4 separate regions of the Homo sapiens genome follow, and regions 1, 2 and 3 are each reported to be linked to region 4. Evidence: microRNA targets listed by miRTarBase, many of them from high-throughput screens and not tested one by one. Region 4 holds a microRNA gene; each other region holds the end of a gene's coding sequence.

Region 1 (5,148 bases), not on the chromosome of region 4:
TTTCATTATATATTACCATGTAATAATAATAGAAATAAAGTGCACAATAAATGTAATGCACTTGAATCTTCCCCAAACCATCCCCCACGTTGGTCTGTGGAAATATTGTCTTCCACAAAACCAGTCCTTGGTGCCAAAAAGGTTGGGGACTGCTGTCCTAACAGATACAGTCCACATCACTGGGACAGATGGCACTCATCCACTCATCCATTCACCCCAAAAGCATGTAGGAGTATTTGTTATGGCCTGCTCAGAAAATAGATCAGCAAGTGACAAGTGGCTGTGGCTACTGAAGGCCCACGGCAAGGGCTGCAGAAAGGTCACAGAAGTGCCACCTCCTCCTGCTTCCTTCAACCTCTCAGAGCTGCCAGTAAGCCTGCAGAATGACAGTACCCTCCTATGTGGTTTACAGAGGATTTACATGGCCCTGGCATGGAACATCACTGTGGAAAGTGTATTAGTCCATTTTCACACTCCTATAAAGAATACTACCTGAGACTGTGTAATTATAAAAGAAAGAGGTTTAATTGACTCACAGTTCTGCAGATTTAACAGGAAGCATGGCTAGGAGGCCTCAGGAAACTTACAATCATGGCGGAAGGCGAAGGGAAAGCAGACACCTTCTTCATGGGCAGCAGGAGGGCGTGTGTGCGAGAATGAGGAAGTGCCGCGCTTTAAAACCATCACCTCTCGCGAGAACTCACTATCACGACAAGAACGTGAGGGAATCCGACCCCGTGATCCAATCACCTCCCGCCTGTCCAGTCCTACGTGTCCCTCCCCTGACATGTGGGAATTACAATTCAAGATGAGATTTGGGTGGGGAAACAGAGCCAAATCTTATCAGAAAGAGCGGCTCAGAGAGGTGAGATGACCTACTCAAGTTCCAGGAGTGGGAGTGATGGGACTTGCCACGGATTCCCTCTGTGTAAATCTGTGACAGCCCTGATGTAAATCAGACATGGCCTCTCCCTCTGGGAGCAGCCAGTCTACTTGGTGAAAAACAAGGGATGAAAGGGGACACAGCAGGTGACTTAAGTGCTATGGTTGGAATGTTTATGTTTCCCCGGAATTCTTTTTTTTTTTTTTTTTTTTGAGACAGAGTCTTGCTCTGTCGCCCAGGCTGGAGTGCAGTGGCGTGATCTTGGCTCACTGGAAGCTCCGCCTCCCAGGTTCACGCCATTCTCCTGCCTCAGCCTCCCGAGTAGCTGGGACTACAGGTGCCTGCCACCATGCCCGGTTAATTTTTTTGTATTTTTAGTAGAGACGGGGTTTCACTGTGTTAGCCAGGATGGTCTCTATCTCCTGACCTCGTGATCTGCCCGCCTCAGCCTCCCAAAGTGCTGGGATTACAGGCGTGAGTCACCACACCCGGCCCCCCGGAATTCTTACGTTGAAATCCTAGCCCTGAAGGTGACGTGGTGATGATGTGATGATGGCAGAACCCTCACCAATGGAATCTGGGCCGCTGTAAAAGAGGCCGTGGGAGCTTGCTTGCCCCTCCCACCATGCAGTGACACAGCAAGAAGGCAGTGAGGAATGGGCCCTCGCCAGACACCAAACCTGCTGGGACCTTGACCTTAGACTTCCCAGCCTCCAGAACTTTCAGAAATGTTTGTAAGACACCCAGTTTATGGTATTTTTGTTACAGCAGCCTGAACAGACTAAAACACTAGCAGGGCAAGGCTGCTGTAACAGTAGACAAACCCCAGAAGCTGAAAAATCATAAAAGTTTTTGTCTATATTGTTCTGTCCATAATTTTTTTTAAAAGCATAAAAGTTTATTTTGTCTTCCTCAGTAGTCTGAACTGAGTATTCCAGGTTGGTCCCCGGGCTGCTCTGCTCCGTGCAGGAACTCAGGAATCCTCGTTTCTCTGCCTTCCTCTAGGCCAGCGGTTCTCTGCTAGGGTGAATTTTCCCACCAGGGTATGTTTGGCAACGTCTGGAGATACTTTGGGTGTCATGACTTGGGCTGTGATACTGGTATCTAGTGAGTGGAGGACATGGATGCTGCTGAATGTTTTACAATGCACGGGACTGCCCCCCACAACAAAGAACCGTCCTGCCCCAAATGTCAGTAGTTGAGAAACTTCCACTTGGGCCTGAAGCATTGTCCTCACTTGCAAAGTCAGAGCTGGGTCCCAGGCCCATCCATGTTCCAGCGAATGGGAAGGAGGAAGAGAGCATAAGCAGGCCCAGGTGCCACAGTGATCCTCATCCACTCCCGTCCATCCATGAGGGCCTAGTCACAGGGCCACATCTAACTTCAGGGGACGGAGTGCTGGGAAATGGAGTCTAGGTGAGTGCCCAGGAGGAAGGGAACAGCCGACTCAGGTGGGCAGCTGGCAGCTTCCCCGACAGGCGTCCTAACTGGTGCAAGAGACATGCAGGATGGAGGTGGTTGGAGGACATTTCGGTAACTAGGTCAGAGCTTGTGCAAAATGCAGAGACAAGAGAGAGCCTGACAAAGCGCAGGCACTGCCACCTGGATGGAGGCTGACAGTGGGAGGGAGGGATCAGTGAGCAGCAGGCGGGTGGCAGGAGCCTGAAATGCAGGACTGAGGAGTCTAGTCTTCGTCCTGAAGGCAGGGAAGGACCTTTGGCCAGTCTCCTGACGTTCTGCCCCGGCTCTTTCCTCCCTGAAGGTGAGTCCCTCGTGTCCATCTTACATAGTTGGGACCTTGCTGACACACACTTCTGCCTGCCTTTAGGCCGTTTCCTTGATTTTCTATGTTGCCAAGATGACTGGCAGCTGCTGGAGGTCAGGACCACAGCCTGGTTCTCAGAGCCCCAGGCACCAAGTTCCCACCCACCCTTGCAAACTCTCCTTTTTTTTTTTTTTTTTGAGATGCAGTCTTGCTCTGTCGCCCAGGCTGGAGTGCAGTGGCACGATCTCGGCTCACTGCAACCTCCGCCTCCCAGGTTCAAGTGATTCTCCTGCCTCAGCCTCCCAAATAGCTGAGATTACAGGCACGAGCCACTATGGCCGGCTAATTTTTGTACTCCCAATAGAGACGGGGTTTCACCATATTGGCCAGGCTGGTCTCGAACTCTTGACCTCATGATCCGACCTCCTCAGCCTCCCAAAGTGCTGGGATTACAGGCGTGAGCCACCTCGCCCGGCCCCACAATCTTAACCACTGTCCACTTCGGTCTCAGATCCCCCACCTCCCGAACACAATTCTACACACCTGCCTCCACAGGCTCCCCAACACTGGCCTCCATGTTCCCACCAGCCTTTCTCCACTTCGGACTCCCCGGAACTCCCTGCTGGGTTGTCCAAGGCCCACTGAGCCTGAGGCCCAGACCCCGGCAAGGAGCCTGTCTCTGACCCGTGGGGGTGATTATTGGCGGGCAGGACCCAACTAGGCCATTAGCTTTGGTTGGGGTGAGTGTGGAGGGGACCACAGTGGTGTGCTGTCTGGGAATGCCACGGCCCTGGATTAGTCACTGTCTGACCGGGCCTCTGGTTTCCACTTTGCACGGTGAAGATTTCTACCTCACGGTGTACTGGGGTAGTGGTGGGAAGAAGGCCACCACATGCGCCTCAGCTGCGTGTTGGCTGACTTCTTGGGGGAGGGGGAAGCGGGATCCACCTGATACTGTCAGCCCAGCTCCAGCTCCACTCACTTGTAAACAGTGGAAATCACAACTGACATTTGTAGGCACATGGCAGGGGGCGCTGATCCTGGCTCCCACGCTCCCAGGTCTCCCTTGCTCCACTGCTCAAGAGGACCCGAGTGTGGGAGCGAGGGGCCCGGAATTCTTGCAGAGAGGGCGGTGGAGCTGGCTTTGCGAGGATGAAGAGATAGTCTAGCCGAGTGGTCCTCAGGCCTAGCTGCACATTCGCATCACTGGAGGAACTTAAAAAATACTTAACATGTCTGGGTCCACCCCAGACTAATCAAATCGAAACTTCGGGAGATGGAGCCAGGATGTAGGCATTTTCCACACCCCCCACCCCAGCTGATTTCAGTGCGCAGCTGGGGTTCAGGTGCACAGAGCTGGGCAGGACGTAAGGTACCCAGAGCGGGAAAGCTGCCTTCTCAGCATGGACATGGTTGGAGGCCCGGGGCTGAAGCCGCCCAACTGGCCTCAGGAGACCCGGTGTCCCCGGTCACAGCTGAGCGCGGGGCTGTGCAGCGCCTTCCACATGAGCAGCATCTCGTAGGGCGCGAAGCGGTGCACTAGCAGCAACTCGCGGTACATGCAGGGGTCGAAGGAGGACTGCTGTGCGCCAGGCAGCTGCACGCCGAAGGGTCGGATGCCCTCGTGGCCGCTGGGCGCCAGGCCGGCGCGCTCCAGACACATGCCCATGTAGGCGTCGTCGATGGGGAAGAGCGGGGTGTGGCGGGCGGCCGCGCGCAGGGCCCGGGCCGTGGGGCCGGACAGGAGGAAGCCGCCGCCGCTGCAGTACACCGGGTAAGCGGACCCGGGGAAGAGCTGCGGCGGCACGAAGTACTTGCTCCAGCTGTCGCGGATGGGCACGGAGCCCTCCATGAGCTGGCCGGAGAACAGGTGGCGGCCGGGTGGCTGCGCCTGCAGGAAGCGGACTACGTTGGCGGTGTGCACGAACACGTCGTCGTCGCCGCTGAGCAGAAAGCGCGCGTGCGGGCAGCGTGCAGCCAGCCAGTCGAGCAAGTGCAGGTGCTTGAGCGTGAGGTTGAGGAAGGTGTCCGCGAAGGCCCACTGCAGCACGTCGCCGTGCTCGCGCGCCTCCAGCGCCACCAGCTCCGCCAGCCGCTCCGCGCGCGCCTCGTCCTCGGGGCCCGGGGTGCCCAATAGAAAGAGGCGGCGCACTGGCCGCCCGCCGTAGCTGCGCTCTTGCCCCCACGTGCGCCGGATGAGCTCGCGTCGCTCGTAGTGCTCAGGCGCCGACTTCACCGCCAGGAGCAGGAACACGCCTCGGCCGCCGGCGCACTTGGCCGGTGCGTCCCAAAGCAGCGGGAAGTGGCGGCAGTGGCGGTACCGCAGGAAGTCCTGGATGCGCGCGGGCAGCTGCTCGAAGTCGGCCGTGGCGTTCGCCGAGGCGTTCGCCACGCACGGGGGCCCGGGGACGAGCTCCGAGGGCGGCTCGTCAGCCGCGGGAGCGTCGGTGGGACCCTCTGGCGTCTCCTCCTGCGGGGACCTCTCCTCCCGCGGGGACCT
Region 2 (5,133 bases), not on the chromosome of region 4:
CCTTCTGTGTTTCTTTTCAGGTTCATTCTCCAACCAGGCCAGCACTTACTAGATTTCTTCACAACTTCGTCTCAATCCTCCTTATTTTCTCTTTCTAGCTCTTTCTAGACCAGTAGTTCTCAAAGTGTGTTCCACAGATCCTTTTCGGGGGGGGGGGTCATGAGGTCAATACTGTTTTCACAATACTAAATGCGACTTGGCTTTTTTTGCTGTGGTGGCACACTGGGGCTGTGGACACTAAAGTGATGGGATGAAACTGCTGGTGTCTAGTATGAATCAGGGCATGGGCACCAAACTACTAATTATCACTGCATTCTCCCCAATCACGCACTTAGAGGAAAAACAAAGCAAGCTGCACCCAAGACTGTAGTTGATGAATTAGTAAAAAATAAATAATAATTTATCAAACTTTGACTCTTGAGTATGTCTTTTTCCATATAGATACTCGTTATTCTAGCACCATTTACTGAAAAGACTATTGTTTCTCCATCAAGTTAACTTGGCACCTTAGTGGAAAATCAATTGATCATATAATTATGGGTCTATTTCTGGACTCAATTTTGTTCCATTGATCTGTATGTCTTTACTTATGCTAAAACCATATGATTTGATTGCTTTAGCTTTATACACAGTAAGTTTAAAATCAGGTTGCATGACGCATATGCACAGCCAAACACACCCAGGTCAGCTCCCCACCTTTTTTTTTTTGAGACGGAGTCTCGCTCTGTCGCCCAGGCTGGAGTGCAGTGGCACAGTCTCGGCTCACTGCAAGCTCCGCCCCCCAGGCTCATGCCATTCTCCTGCCTCAGCCTCCCAAGTAGCTGGGACTACAGGTGCCTGCCACCACACCTGGCTAATTTTTTTTTTTTTTTTTTTTTTGTATTTTTAGTAGAGACAGGGTTTCACTGTGTTAGTCAGGATGGTCTTGATCTCCTGACCTCATGATCCACCCACCTCGCCCTCCCAAAGTCCTGGGATTACAGGTGTGAGCCTTCACGCCCGGCCAGCTCCCCTTTTTTTTTGAGACAGAGTCTTACCGCCCAGACTGGAGTGCAGTGGCGTGATCTGAGTTCACTGCAACTTCCGCCTCCCATGTTCAAGCGATTGTCCTGCCTCAGCTTCCCAGTAGCTGGGACTACAGGGGCATGCCACCACATCCGGCTAATTTTTGTATTTTTAGTAGAGACAGGGTTTTGCCATGTTGGCCAGGCTGGTCTCGAACTCCTGGGCTCTAGTGATCTGCCCATCTTGGCCTTCTAAAGTGCTGGGATTACAAGTGTGAGCTACTGCGCCCAGCCCCCAACCTTTTTTTTTTTTTTTAAGAAAGGTTTTGCACTGTTGCTTAGGATGGAATCATGATTCACTACAGCCTCCATCTCCTAGGCTCAAGCCATCCTCCTGCCTTAGCCTCCCAAGTAGCTGAAACTACAGGTGTGCGCCACCAAGCTCAGCTAATTTTTTTTATGTTTAGCAGAGACAAAGCTTCCCTATGTTGCCCAGGCTGGTCTCAAACTCCAGAGCTCAAGTGATTCACCCGTCTTGGACTCCCGAAGTGCTGGGATTACAGGTGTGAGCCACTATGCCTGAACAGTGTATATTTCTTTCTTTTTTTTAACAGAGCTCACTCTGTTGCCCAGGCTAAAGTGCACTGGTGCAATCTTGGCTTATTGCAACCTTCACCTCCTGGATCCAAGTGATTCTCATGCCTCAGCCTCCTGAGTAGCTGGGATTACAGGTATGGGCCATCACACCCGGCTAATTATTTTTTTTTTGAGGTGGAGTCTTGCTCTGTTGCCCAGGCTGGAGTGCAGTGGTGGAATCTTGGCTCACTGCAACCTCCACCTCCCAGGTTTGAGTTTCTCCTGCCTCAGCCTCCCAAGTAGCTGGGATTGCAGGTGCATGCTACCACACCCAGCTAGTTTTTGTATTTTTGTAGAGATGGGATTTCACTATGTTGGCCAGGCTGGTCTCAAATTCCTCACCTTAAGTGATCTGCCCACCTCGACCTCCCAAAATGCTTGGCCTCCAGTGTGTATTTCTAACGGGCTATTCTGGGTGATTTTCAAATAAGTATATTTTAAAGCAGACTTTTTTTCCCCTATGGTCATACAGAAAAAGCTCTCCATTATCCTGTGCCATGAATAATACTTGCATGCTCTATTGAGTTATTATGTAAATAGTTAAAACTGTATGCTGTATTTATGAGTTGTTTTCCCTTCTTTTGTGTCGTTAGAGTGGTAAAGTTGAATGGGAGAAATCCAGACCCAATTATCCATGCCTCAGAATCTAAGAGATTTTTAGGATGGCACATCTTCAGTGTCATCTCATCTTCTACCGTGTTTAAGGATGATTCTGCATTCAACAGCTGCTTTAGAGCTTGCTTAGTAAAACAGAAAATCACACACAAAACAACGAGAAAATCACCAGCATTTATTTACTCAACAAATATTTATGAAGAGTCGACTATATACTAGGTCCTGTGCTAAATATCCTGGATATTGTTTATAGGTCAGAAACTGTGGGGAAGAATAAACAGAATGAGGAACTTTTTTCTCCTTGAAAATAATTATATTTTATAAATAATTGAGGCAGAGAGAACTCTAATACTTTCTTTTTTGGAAGAGTCGTTCTCCAAGGAGACATGCTTGGGCCAATCATTTAGCTGAAATGATCACTAAACATACATATATACCTTAAAATTCATGAGCAAGGACCATAATAAAGCGAGGTGTTGTATATGGTATACATTTCTGTTTTCCCACCATATACACAATTTGGGTTATTTTACTTGGTGCCATGGGCTAGGAACTCTTAGGGCTGGGAAACAATCTTGGTTTCCCAACAGTCTATATCATATAGGTGAAAACTGTAAAATACATCACAGTGCAGATGAAATCTAACACTACTAGCTCATTTTGTGCTGCTGTGGAAGCAGTGAATTAAAATTAAGTCCTGTACTGGGGATTGGGCCTTTTGTCAGGGCAACTGAGATCAACTGTACAGAAATTTTCAAATTTCCCTTCTCATCAGGCAAACGGATGGACAATGAAGCCGGTTCAGAGGCCCAGCCGAGACAATGATGCACAGGGAAACTCCCTCGAGCCCCAGCTGTCACCTAGTACTTCGAAGACACTGAGAGGTAATGCTGCAAAGTCGTGCTGTCATTTTTTTAATGTCTCACATATATTCCAAGCAATATGCATTAGCAAACAAATATCCACGAATAGTATCATCTCATTTTCTACTAATAACCCTTTATTTGGTATCTTAAAAAAGATTTTGTAAGACACAAAACTTTCCATTAAAAAGTTGTTTATTTAAAAATACCTTCTCCCAATTCTGATTCCATATCAAATTAAATCAAGAAGTGATGTTACAGCAATAACTCATCAAAGTCATGAGTAGGGAGGATGGCAATGACCCCATTAGCTCATTAGTATAATCTAGTAAGTGAAATAGAAATTCAACTCATTTACTTCTTCACAAAAGGCAAACATAATTGATATACTTCATATCAAAAAACTAGTTTATAAAGCTTGTCTTCATATTTCAGTTTAAGGTTCAACTGATATAAAATGCCTTAAAAGAACATCCAAGCAATGCTTTGGATTTTCTTTCTTTGCAAAATTCAAGGAAAACATGATTGGTTGAAGTTTCTTCACTGCTGGCGAATTAGTTAAGAGCTACCTGAGATTCCTTCGCACTTCCACTCTTCCACTCTTTGAGTTTCCAGTGATTAAAATATGCCAGAGACATAATTTAGAGAGCGCTAGAAATGCCACACAGATCTCATCACTTAAAAAAGAGTTTCTGGCCAGGCACGGTGGCTCATGCCTGTAATCCCAGCACTTTGGGAGGCCAGGGCAGGCGGATCACTTGAGGTCAGGAATTTGAGACCAGCCTGGCCAACACGGTGAAACCCGTCTCTACTGAAAAAAAAAAACAAACCAAAAAACCAAAAACAAAAACAAGGTGTGGTGGTGGGTGCCTGTAATTCCAGCTACTCAGGAGGCTGAGGCATGAGAATCGCTTGAACCTGGAATGGCAGAGGTTGCAGTAAGCCAAGATCGCAGCACTGTAATACAGCCTGGGCAGCAGTGAGACTCCATCTCAAAAAAGAAAAAAACAACAAAACAAAACAAACAAACAAAACACACACACAAAAAAACCAGCAACAGAGTTTCTGACAGGTTTTGAAGTTTTTTTTTTTTTTTTTTTTTGGAGACAGGGTCTCCCTCTGTCACCCAGGCTGGAGTGCAGTAGCGTGATCTCAGCTCACTGCAACCTCTGTCTCCCAGGTTCAACCGACTCTCCTCCCTCAGCCTCCCGAGTAGCTGGGATCACAGGCATGTGCCACCATGCTTATGCATGCGGTTTCACCATGTTGGCCAGGCTGGCCTCAAACTCCTGACCTCAAGTGATCCACCCGCCTCGGTCTCCCAAGGTGCTGGGATTATAGGCGTGAGCCACCATGCCTGGCCAGGTTTTGAAGTTTTTACAGAATGTACAGAATGTAATCATTAAAAAATGACTTTCAGAAACATATACATTCAAAGAAAACCTTTTAGTATTCTAAGCATTGAATACTTTGGGGGAAGAACTGGTTTCTTTTTTGGATTGTTTAAGAAGTCAGTCTTTTCTCAACAGTTTCTTGATAAGCAATAAATCTTCGCAAATTCATTTTCACATTGTCAAGAACACACAGCTGATCTGTGCTATAGTTACCTCTCCCTTCTTTACGTATCTGCAAACAAAAAACAAAAAATCATATATGACTTGGTAGATATGATTAATTCATTTAAATAAAGTATTTAATTTAGGGTGTATTTAACCATTTGCTGAAGCAGATAGCTGTAAGAATTTGGAAAAAATGTTTTTACTTCCAAGGTAAATGGAACTCGGTAAGTAAAGAATAAACTGAGAATGTGCATTATTAAAAATGATAGTTACAAAGGTGACTGAATGGCAGGTGGTAGGAGTTATATAAACTATAGAAAGGAATTATGTAAACCATGAATTGGGAAAATAACCCCTAACCTCTGAAAGGTCTGCTGTTCAGATTGATTTTCCTAGTTAGTATGCATTGCTATGGTAATAATACTTAATTGTTTTTCTTCTCTCAAAGGTATAAAG
Region 3 (5,148 bases), not on the chromosome of region 4:
TTCTCCCCTTCTGGGGCAGTTGAGCAATCAGGTGTGGAGGGAAGATGGCTATGGTAAGGCCTTTAGGTTACGGACTCTTAGCTCCATGGGGATCACTGAAGAGGCCAATGAGAATGTTCTGATTTGAGGTCTTTTAAGACAGATGTTCTTCAGGGGTTGCAGCTCTGCAGACCTCCTGGTTATACAACCAGGATGTGTGACGTGCTGAAGTCTAAAAGTTTCATCTCAGTTCATCTGTACCATCACGGTGATATAGGAAAAGGGGCCCTTCCTAGCAGGGGAATTCCAGACCCCCCCTGTTATCTTGGTGAAATGGTAAAAAATGTAATGACTATGGGCCTTTGGAGAAATAGTGTGGCAAAATGACCCAATAGGGTTTGAGACCTGCAGTTAGGAGGAGCAGAGCTTAGCAGCTTCTGCAAGGAAGGAGAGCAAGGACACAGTAAACACAGATCCCAGGACATGTGACCACACGTGGCCAGGCCAGCCCAAACCAGGGAGCTGTCCTGGGTGGTTGCATCCTTCATTTTCTGTCCATGCCCTCATAGGGCCTCAGGGAAACTGCTAGATTTAGGTGAAGAGCAACGTGCAAAACTGTCTTTGATTTATGACCTGAGTCTGGACTTAAACCGAGTACGAGGCATTTGGAATAAAAGGTAAACTTTTCTCTCTCAGTTCTGAAACATATCGCTTTATGATTCTATGAATGGGAAGTTGGGAGGGGCATTATTGTCAAAAGCAGCTGTCCATTTTTCATAGGCTCTTTTGGATAACTGCAAGATCGTAGACCATTTGTCAAGTGAGATTTGAGACAGGGCAGGTATTGAGAAAGAAGACTCATAAGACACATCTTGTTCTCTGCAAATAAAACACCCAGACATTTCTGAAACCACTGGGTTTGCCTAAGACCACACCTAAACCTCAGTTCACCAAAGTTCACGTGTTTGGCTTGCAGGAGTGTGCTCAACAGGCAAACCGATACTTTTAAAGATTGGAGGCTTAATATCTTGTTTGCCTTCCAAGATGATATTTCTGTCAATTTACCTAGATTAAGGGGTCCTGGCTCTGGACCCTGGGAGAAGGGGCTGGGAGTAGGGATGGGGAGATACCAGGGCTTACAGGTAGCTCCTGCTCTCCTGAGTAAATAGAAGGACAAGTTCAAATGCCAGACAAAAAGGCAGAGATACCACCCAGATTCTTTAAGGGTAATTGCCTCTCCCAGCAGGATACAGATGCAGAGAGTCAGGTTGCACTCAGGCTGAATTGGAGTGTTCTTTAAGAAAATGTTCCCTATTTTTGTGTGCCTTGGCAAACTCAGGGTGGAATGCAAGGGTTGCCATGGTAATATCCCTCTTTTTTTTTTGTCAGATCAGTCACGTGGGACCCAAGCACATTCTGGAAGCCATTGCTAATAGTCCCGATGCTAGATTCTGTCTGGGGGCTTTGTGGGTATCTGGAAAGGTGGGGCGCAGCTTCTTTGGGGATCAAGGGGGTCAGGGTCCATTTCCCCTTCTCTCCCAAGGAAAATGCCTTCTTGCTCATCACTTGTGCTTTCCAGGGGGGCGGCGGGGGGTACCTGCTCTTGCAGCAAGAATGAGCCAACCTGTGTTTGTCAATCACTCAGCCTCCACACAGTTGGGCAGCCAAGGTCACTGGTTCCTAAGTCCGGAGGACAGAATGAGGGGTGAGCTATTCCCTCTCAATTCCTGCGGAAGTCACTTCCAGCTGGGGCTACATGGCATCCCTTGGGCATGGGAGACCAGGACCTTCTGGAATCTTCAGCCGTGAGCTTCATAGCCACCATGATGGGGACACTGACTGGCATGGGGCCCTAGCATAAAATTTGTGTGAACAGGGCTGGGAGTTGGCTGCCTGACAAGGAAGGCTTCCCTATACCCAAGACAAACTGTCCAAGCAAAGCAGCCAGGGTGCAAGTCACCGGGACAAACTCTGAGCTCCTGAAGTCTAAGGAATGCCGCTAGCTCAGGGCCGTCTCCACGCACTGTGTCCTTCAGTCCCTGGGTGCCACATGGGGGGTTACCACAGTGGGAAGATAACTCCTAGGCTGTCAGAAAGAATTCTGTGTCTTCCTTCTTGCCATCTCTCTCTAGCAGTCTGCAGAGGAATGCATTCTCCTAGATTTTCCCCTGGGGAGGGTGGGCTTGCTTCCAGGTCACTGGGAGCAAGAAGAAGGTCACCGTTAGGAAAGGAATCCTGCAGCCTTTCCAGAAAACAGGATGGCGGCGCCTCTCCAGAACTCCTTTTCCTCCCTACTCCTGCACAGTGGCTAATCTCTCTGCCAATGAAATCTAACCCTCACCTCTTGAAGGGTCTCTGTTCTCCAGCAGGAGGCAGAAGAACTCGCAGAAAAGCCACCTTCAAAGAAGTACTCATTTTCTGCCCTGAAGACCAGCCTCAGCTGCAGCATTTCAGTCCCCTCTCATGGAGGAGGGGGCTTTGAAGAATCATCCCTGGGGTTTCTACCCAGTCTACTTAGGGTCCTGCACCCCTATGGATGTGGTTGGGTGGTTCGGGGGTCAGGGAAAAACAGGAAAGTATATCCCTTCAAGATCTGCTATGCCCTCCCATCTAAGTCCAGATGGGAGAGGGCAAACTGCCCAGGGCAGAGATTAAGGATGAAGTTGTTCGATGTATTAATATTCTGCATTTGGACCGGTTCTAGTTGAGAATTCCAATCCTAAGGGGACAGTGGTGAGTCAGCCAACAGGAGCAGCAGAAGGGGCAGGCATGCAGTGTGCAGGCAGCAGGGCAGGTAAGGGGGAAAGGCAGGTTGCTGCCTCCTTGGTCTGGCCTTGCTGGGCTGAACTCCAGGAAGTTTTGCAGAGGGACCTGTGATCCCCCAGGCTCTTGGGAGCTTACATCTGCTCCCTCCTCCATATTATGGCTGAAGCCTTAGTTTTACTTGTGCTCATCAGGAATATTCATAGTCTCCCACAGAGGGAAAGTTTCTACAGCTGCCCTCAGGCTGTTGCCAGTAGCACTTGCAGAGGTGAATGAGAAAACTTTCATTGGAGACCTTGGGTGCTCCAAGTCTGAAAAGGCAGTAGGGAGAAAGCTGAGCAGGAAGACAGGGAGGGAGATCAGGAACACACAACGCACCAAAAAATCCTACCCACTGCATAGAGACAAGAAAGCTTCTGGTGGCTCGCTACTGGAAGGGGGGAAGCATGTAGTTTTAGGATGTAATCAAAAGAAGTAGGAGCAAGGTAATTCCATTACAAAATAAAGACCTGAGCTTGGAAAAGTACAAAGGGAACTATTACATCTAGAGATTACTGGCTAATCTGACTACACAAGCTTGAATTCATAGTAGTGGCTGACATCTAGGAAAAGTCAGGAAATTACAGACTTGGAATGGTGTTGAAAACAGATCCTTGGATTCAGTTCTCTTCCCCAACGAAAAGTATTCTGCAGGCAGGAGTAAATTACCTGTTCTGTTGGCTAAACTCATAAACATCTTTTCCCCCAACCTCCTGAAAATGAGTCAGTTGCAGAATCTGAAGGCCAGAAGATCTTATGTGAAAATACAGTCGTTTGATCTCTCCATCTTTCCATTTTGGATTGCATTTCTCTTTTTAGCTGGGGAAGACTAACAAAGCAAACTCCAAGGTAAGGGAAAGGTAAGATGCACAAGGACCTTAACTTACAAAGGTCATCCGGCATAGAGACGTGGTGGGTCTCCATGACTCCAGATGGCTGGGTGTGGGTATCAAAACCTCACCGCCAGTCCCAGTCCCCTCCCCCCTCAACCTGCCTCACCCCTGCCCCAAAGAAGCAGGGATGAGTGTGGGAGGGAGGACAAGCTTATATTAGGTGTAAGCGATTAGGGAAGAATGACATCACACACGAAGAAGCCAAATATATATATCTGTCTATGTTATAGAGATGCCCACGATTATGCTTCTTTTTTTCTCTAATGGCAGCACAGGCGGCAAAGCTGGGAGAAAGGCTCTCTGCAGGTTCCAAAATGCTGGTGCGGGATGGGCTCTAGGAACAGAAAGCCAAGTGCCGACGGAAACTGAGAGCACCCCAGCTCTACCAATGGCAGTCCTCTAGAAAAGGCAGTAAGAACGGAAGCGGTGAGGGGTGCAGCTGAAGACCGCCAGGGCTGCACCCCACTTAATGGCTTTCCCCTCATGCCTTGGGGGGGTCTCCACTGGGTGGAGGAAGGAAGCCAGGGTGGGATGGAAAGCCCCCTCTTCTGTGGCAACCCTGAAGTCAGCCTCTTGGAACTGAGGGTTGACCTCAGCAGAGAGTCTCCTGTTGACCCTTGGGTTGAAAGAATGGGGAGTGGAGGTGACTGTGTGTTCATGCCTCTCTCTTGCTCTCTCACCATTATACCTGGATGGCTGCTGGAATTCCGAGATGAAGATGAAGTTTTTCTCTAGAGTTATGACTGATGGTTGAAGCAATAATTTGGAAATCCTGGCGATTTATTGCATTAGAAAACAAAACCATTAAAGCACTGAAGACAGCCCTTTAGTGTCCCTGCCAAGGAGATGAAGCTGAAGTGCAACCCCAGTTGCACTCAACCTTGGGTTCTTTACTGAACGGTTCCATCGTCCGCATCCATCCATAGTCCATAGGTCCGTGTCTGCTGTGTGGAGGAAGAGTCTGCCCGCACGGCATGCACATGCGCGGTGAGCTGCAACACAGTGTGGCTGGCGGGAGGCTGCTACTCCATGCCGCTCCGGAGTATCTGGTTGGCTGCAATCAGCATGACACTGATGATGAAGGCCATAGCAAAGGCGCATATGAGGCTCTTCCGGACGCAGGTCTGTCTGTTCTGCTTCTGGGAATGCACTGGTGGTGGGAGAAGCAGGTGTGGGAAGAAGGAAGAGGGGTTGGGAGAAGAGAGAAGAGAGAAATAACACAGTGAGATAGGTTGCAACTCTTCCTCAACAGGCCAGCAGTGAGTCCTATAGGATGAGACTGGTCAAATCAAGTTGACAGGCATTTATGGGACCACTGCCATGGAGACTGCATAATACAAAATGCCTTCTGGTGAAAGGTATGAAATGAGAAAACTTCTATAACAAGAATCATGATGGATGTGATGATCAGAGTAAGGCCTAAATTTTCTGATAGAATAGAGCCAGAGTGACTTTCAGAGCCCGGAAATATGGG
Region 4 (5,136 bases):
TCCCCCGCCCCATAGGTCAGGCTGACTCAAAGCCTCAAACCTCTAATCACATGGTCAGTCTGTCTGGTGACCAGCCCCAGCTCTGAGTCATCCCACCTTTTAGCATAAGCTCAGGTGTGATCCCATGGCCTCACAAATAACAAAGACACTCCTATTACCCTGGAAATGTCAAGGACTGAAAGTCTCCCTCCCAGGAAGCAGGGACAAAGGCCAGTTCAATTCTTTAGACAACCTCCAATCCACACCTCCTGGAACTCCTACCCCAATTGAAACAAGGATAAAATCCACTGAACATGGAGGGCCCATTGCTGGCCTGAACTATTTTTGTTTCTTTTTTTTTTTTAAAGCTTTTTATTATAGACATTTTCAAACATATACAACAGTAAAATGAATAATATAATGAACCCTCACACCTCCATCCCTAGTAACTGATTATCCGTGTGTGGCTTACTCTTTGATCGATACTCTCCTGCTTTCCCCTAGCCCCCACAGTTAGACTGTCCCGCAGCAAAGCCCAGACAGACATCCTATCGGTCTGAGAATTCCTTATCAAAAGCTTCCCGAAGAGGAACTCTATATAGGGCAGGACTAAGTGTGCTGGCTATAGGTCTGCAGAAATCTCAACCCTTGGGAGCCCTTGGGTGGGGCCTGGGCAGGTCCCTGGGCAGTAGCCGTCTGTAGTGGGCGGCTCATCTGCTGACAACAGTATGACGAACAAATAGCATTTTGTACCCGCACTACAATGCAGGAGAACGCCAAACACCGCTTTATTGCATTCAAACCTTCTAAGGCACGTCAGCCAGCCCTGGCCTTGTCTACAGCCATGATTATCTCCTTAAAGAGTTAACTCTAAAAAAATATTAAGCTCAAGAAATAACAGCTCAAATACTCCTAACTAATTAAAATCAATAGTGAGAGGCAGAATACGGTAAAAGATAACATATTAGTATTATTGATCACAGATCAATTTCAGAGTACTTAAAACAGGAATAATCAGCTACCACATCTTGAAAAATACAAAGACTTGATCCTAACCTTTTATTTATCATGCCACACGGACTGAGACAGTCCCCAGTACCTGGGTCTAGGAGAGTTATTTTATGTTTGTGTTTCTGGGAATTTCCGATACTTCCCAGTGTATCAGAGTGTTCCCCTCACACATGCTAGCAGGCATCTCCCCACTAATGGAATAGCAAGAGTGGTGAACAGAGCGATCCTCTACTTTCTCATCATATTCTGCAAAATGAGAAGTCAGATGGATACAAAGGTTCCTCCAACTCTAGGACTCCAGGGTTGTGTGGCGGCCCTGCAAGGCTAGGTTATGTAAGGTCTCACCATTGCAAACAGAATGGTTCAAGACAGCAAGGATGCACTCCTCAATTTACAACTCCAAAGCACCTTGCACAGAGCTTGGCTTTGGTTACCTACTTGACTCTCTTTTAAACAGAGGGTCTTATGCTTCCCTATCCTGAGCTGCACATTTGCCAGGGAAGTGGCCTCACTGTTGCCCTCATTTCTGCAGAAGAGAGCCAGAGCAGGAGCCATGGATTTATCTCTGGCATTCTACTCCTCCAAGCCCAGCTGTTTCCCAAGTATTAATTGGTTTCAGACAAGGCTTTCGTTTCAGAAAATCAATGAAGATGCTTTTGATCATCTTCAAAAGCAGAGAAGAATCACCAAAGAACTTTTCTTCCAAGTAGTAAAGGAATAAAACTTCTAAGGACCACATATCACCTATTGCAGGGATGTCTTTCCTACAAAGATTATTGCTCTCCCGAGGAACTGAAAATCCTTGTTAGGAGATGACACCGATCAGGTATGTACCTGCATGTCAGGTGTGTAGCTGTCAGGAATATCAAGTGTTCTGAGCCTGCCTAGAGTGCCCTAGAGTTCCAGCACGAGGCCTGAGATGCATTACATTCTCAAATATCCATATGAAAAGGTCTGGGGTCTCTAGTTCCCCAATGGTGACTTCTTTTCATATTATAGGAAGCCTGACAGGAGCTCTCCTCTAAGCAAAGCCCAGAGTTGGACTCATTTCACTATAAGAGGCTAAATTCCTCATACTCACATCCTGACAACATTAGGCTATAAGGAGCTTGGGGAAAATCCAGCCATCCATTCACTCCCGCCCCTTAGTGGACTGGGTTATTTTCACCACACAGAAACACTGCAGGGAAAATAGCCACTTGTGTGACCCTCTTTAGCTCTTTCCCTCCCTCCCTGATCAATGTGAGCTTATATAATTGGCTTAAATGAGGAAGTCAGTAGAAGGGGCTAGGGCCAGCCCCAGGCTCTGACTCACGCAAGGGCCAGTGCTGGGTCTGCAGCCTGTGGCCAGGGATGAACAGGAATGTTCCTGTTCCCCATGAGGTTTGCTAAAAGACCCCTTTGGTGGTAGGTTGACACCCCAGCAAGTGGCCTAGCATGGTCCGAGGCAGCCGCATAGCCTGTCTGCATGATAGCAGGCTTCAGGGATCCAGCTTAGCTGGAGGCTTGACTGTGCTAGCCTCGGTGGTACCTGCACTGTCATTCCATATGTCACAATCCAGGGAAGAGAGGCTATCACCGAGAAGAGTTGTCAGTAAGAAGGCAGGACACTCTAACACGAGCAAACCCACCAGGCTTCTGTTGATCCAGGGCAGCATCCCCCTCGCCTGGCAGAGTTCCTTGCCCCACAGCCAAGGCTATGGGAAGCAAGGCCTCCAGCAAAGCTCATGGCTGCCACCAAAGCATCTCTGCCAAGATGCTTCTTATGATACTTAGGAAGGATTTCCACCCAAACTGGATCAGGGTCACCATGACCCTGAATCACAAATCCAACACAGGCTGATTCCAATCATGGTTTGAAGCTTTAGCTGAAAAGTTTGCTGTTTGAAAACCATCAATGTGGGGGCGATGGGTGTGCAGGGTAGGAAGGGAACGCACTATTTTCCAGTGGAGGAAGAGGGTATGCCTCTTTAGGAAACTGTTCTGGGTAGAGACTGCTGTGGGTGTTTCCTCAAGCACAGATAATAACCAGGAGATCAAGCCCCAACATGCGGGTAATGGAGTTTATGTAACATTGAAACTCAATGACTTTGGAACTTTAAAAACATCTATAGTAAGAATTCAAAACACCAAGATCTGAAGGCTACCCCAGAGAGCAAAGGGGCAGCCTTCAGATCCAAGTGGCCCAAGACAGAACCTACAGTAGCTATGGATTTTCTCTAAGAGGAATCGGGCACTCATGACTTCACTTCCCAGAGCTCTGCCCAGCTGCCCAGCAGCCTGGAGATTTCCAGAACAATGGGGAGTAGGTCACCCTGCCCTGATAGGCACCAGGGGGTGGAAACGCCTCCTCGCCCACAACACAATCACTCTCACCCCTTTCCTGGCTAAATCCCACCTCCCACCCTCCCGCCAGCTCCCCTCCCATGCTCCCAATCCTTGGGACCTCTTGGGGAATTATCCAAGGAGAGTTCTGCCTGCTGTATTTTCACTAGGGTCTTGGGACTTCTGCAGGCAGTCAGCCCAAGTGCCTACAGCCTGCCTACTTGGGGGAGCAGATGGAGAGTGTGGCACCAGCAGAAAATACCCAGAAAGCCGGGTACAAAGCCTCAGTAAAGTCCACCCTGAACTTATACATCAGGTGGACCTTGTCGGCAACAGCGAAGAAGATGACAAAGCCGTGGTCACAGTTGAGAAGCACGCCCACCCGCGTGGCCTTGGTGGAGGGCAGGGTTTTCTCCACGTTATTGTGCCAGGCAGAGATCTTGGTGTTGAACCACTCCACGCACCAGGAGGCGCTGTTGCGGCCGAGCCTGCTTTCTGGGCCCTGCCGGTTCATGCTTCCGTAGCAGATGCCTACCCCACAGAAGTTGTTCTTCTGCAGCTCCACCTCCCAGTAGTGGATCCCCTTCTTGTAGCAGTGCAGGCCCAGCACCTGAGAGCAGTATGTGAACCTCTGGGGATGCGGCCGGTAGTTCTGAGGCATCTCAGCCACAGAAGCTACTGTATAGCACTCTGACAGAGCCACTTTGTTGTGGGCGGTGTTGTAGTCCAGGATGACTTTAATGTAATCTGAGAAAACATCACCCCAAGGAATTAATTACAAGGGGCCCAAAGTGCTCTTTTAGACCTTTGCCAAAGTGGTACTATTTATTCACTAGTTTTATCCATCCATGCACCCATCTACCCATTGGTCCATCCATCCACTCATCTATCCATCTGTCTGTCTATTCATCCATCTATCTGTCTATCCATGTATCCATCAATCCATCCATGTATCCATCCATCCATCTATCCATCTACCCATGTATCCATATACCCATCTATCTACCTATCTATCCATTCTTCCATTCATCCATCTATCCACTTATCTATCCATCCTTCTGCCTTTCCATTTATCCATTCATTCATTCATTAATCTATCCACTTATCTATCCATCTGTCCATTTATCCATCCACCCATCTATCCACCCATCCATTATTCATCAGCTCATCTATCCATCCATTCATCCATCCATTCTGTCCAGCCAGCCAGCCATCTATCATCTATCAGTCATCCGTATGTCTGTCCATTCATCCATCCAAAACCATTTACCAGGCACCTGACTGACACCAGATTCTGGCACAAGATGCACAACCATGAACCAGAGAGACAAGGTGCCGGGCCTCATGGAGTTCACACTCCAACAAGCAAGGCAAGTCCATCAGTAACAACACCATGAGACTCACACTCTGCCAAAAGGGTAAGCACACACTGTAGGGACACAGAGACAAGGCAACTGATGCTACAGTTGGGGAACATTTCACTGGCAGGCTGGAATTGGAGCCAAGTAACAGAAGATGAGAACTAGACAGAGGAGAACAGAGAGAGAAAAGCTGTTCCAGACAGAGGGAACAGTGAGAGTGAAGCCACGGAGTGCCAAGGGGATTCGCATGTGCTGGGATCGGGGAAGCTGGGTGGCTGGGAACACAGATGCAGCAGGAGAAGGGAAACATGTTGGGGCTAGAAAGGGAAGGGCTTAGGAGGCTAGACTTTAACTGGTGGGCAGCAGGGAGCCAAGCGAGGCACTCATTTGCTAGGTGGCTCAGGGCATGACACTTTTCACTGGAGCCCGAGTTTCCCCCAAGGCAAAATGAATAAGCTGG

The links. Region 4 holds the annotated microRNA hsa-miR-3614-5p (CCACUUGGAUCUGAAGGCUGCCC, at 3,152-3,174, opposite strand). A microRNA usually pairs through its seed, bases 2 to 8, with sites in the 3' UTR of a target mRNA and lowers its output. Matches are read on the target gene's strand: a 7mer-m8 pairs with bases 2 to 8, a 7mer-A1 pairs with bases 2 to 7 and ends in A, and an 8mer does both.
Region 1: miRTarBase lists B3GNT6 as a target of hsa-miR-3614-5p. Seed matches in the 3' UTR shown: 7mer-A1 at 3,627-3,633.
Region 2: the mRNA of HEATR3 is a reported target of hsa-miR-3614-5p. Seed matches in the 3' UTR shown: 7mer-A1 at 3,873-3,879.
Region 3: miRTarBase lists CALN1 as a target of hsa-miR-3614-5p. Seed matches in the 3' UTR shown: 7mer-A1 at 1,542-1,548.

The regions. Positions count from the first base shown.
Region 1 is chr11:77,039,654-77,044,801 of GRCh38, reverse strand. B3GNT6 (UDP-GlcNAc:betaGal beta-1,3-N-acetylglucosaminyltransferase 6) reads right to left here. Exons shown (of 2, transcript NM_138706.5): 2 at 2,829-5,148. The coding sequence ends at 4,096. Among named protein-coding and RNA genes, the nearest start is that of ACER3-AS1, 6.5 kb to the right of the region's middle.
Region 2 is chr16:50,104,550-50,109,682 of GRCh38, reverse strand. HEATR3 (HEAT repeat containing 3) reads right to left here. Exons shown (of 15, transcript NM_182922.4): 15 at 2,411-4,744. The coding sequence ends at 4,622. Among named protein-coding and RNA genes, the nearest start is that of HEATR3-AS1, 41 kb to the right of the region's middle.
Region 3 is chr7:71,783,079-71,788,226 of GRCh38, forward strand. It overlaps CALN1 (calneuron 1), which reads right to left. Exons shown (of 7, transcript NM_031468.4): 7 at 1-4,824. The coding sequence ends at 4,697. Among named protein-coding and RNA genes, the nearest start is that of MIR3914-1, 480 kb to the left of the region's middle.
Region 4 is chr17:56,888,168-56,893,303 of GRCh38, forward strand. MIR3614 (microRNA 3614) reads right to left here and starts at 3,188; the gene lies at 3,103-3,188. TRIM25 (tripartite motif containing 25) reads right to left here. Exons shown (of 9, transcript NM_005082.5): 9 at 1-4,062. The coding sequence ends at 3,533.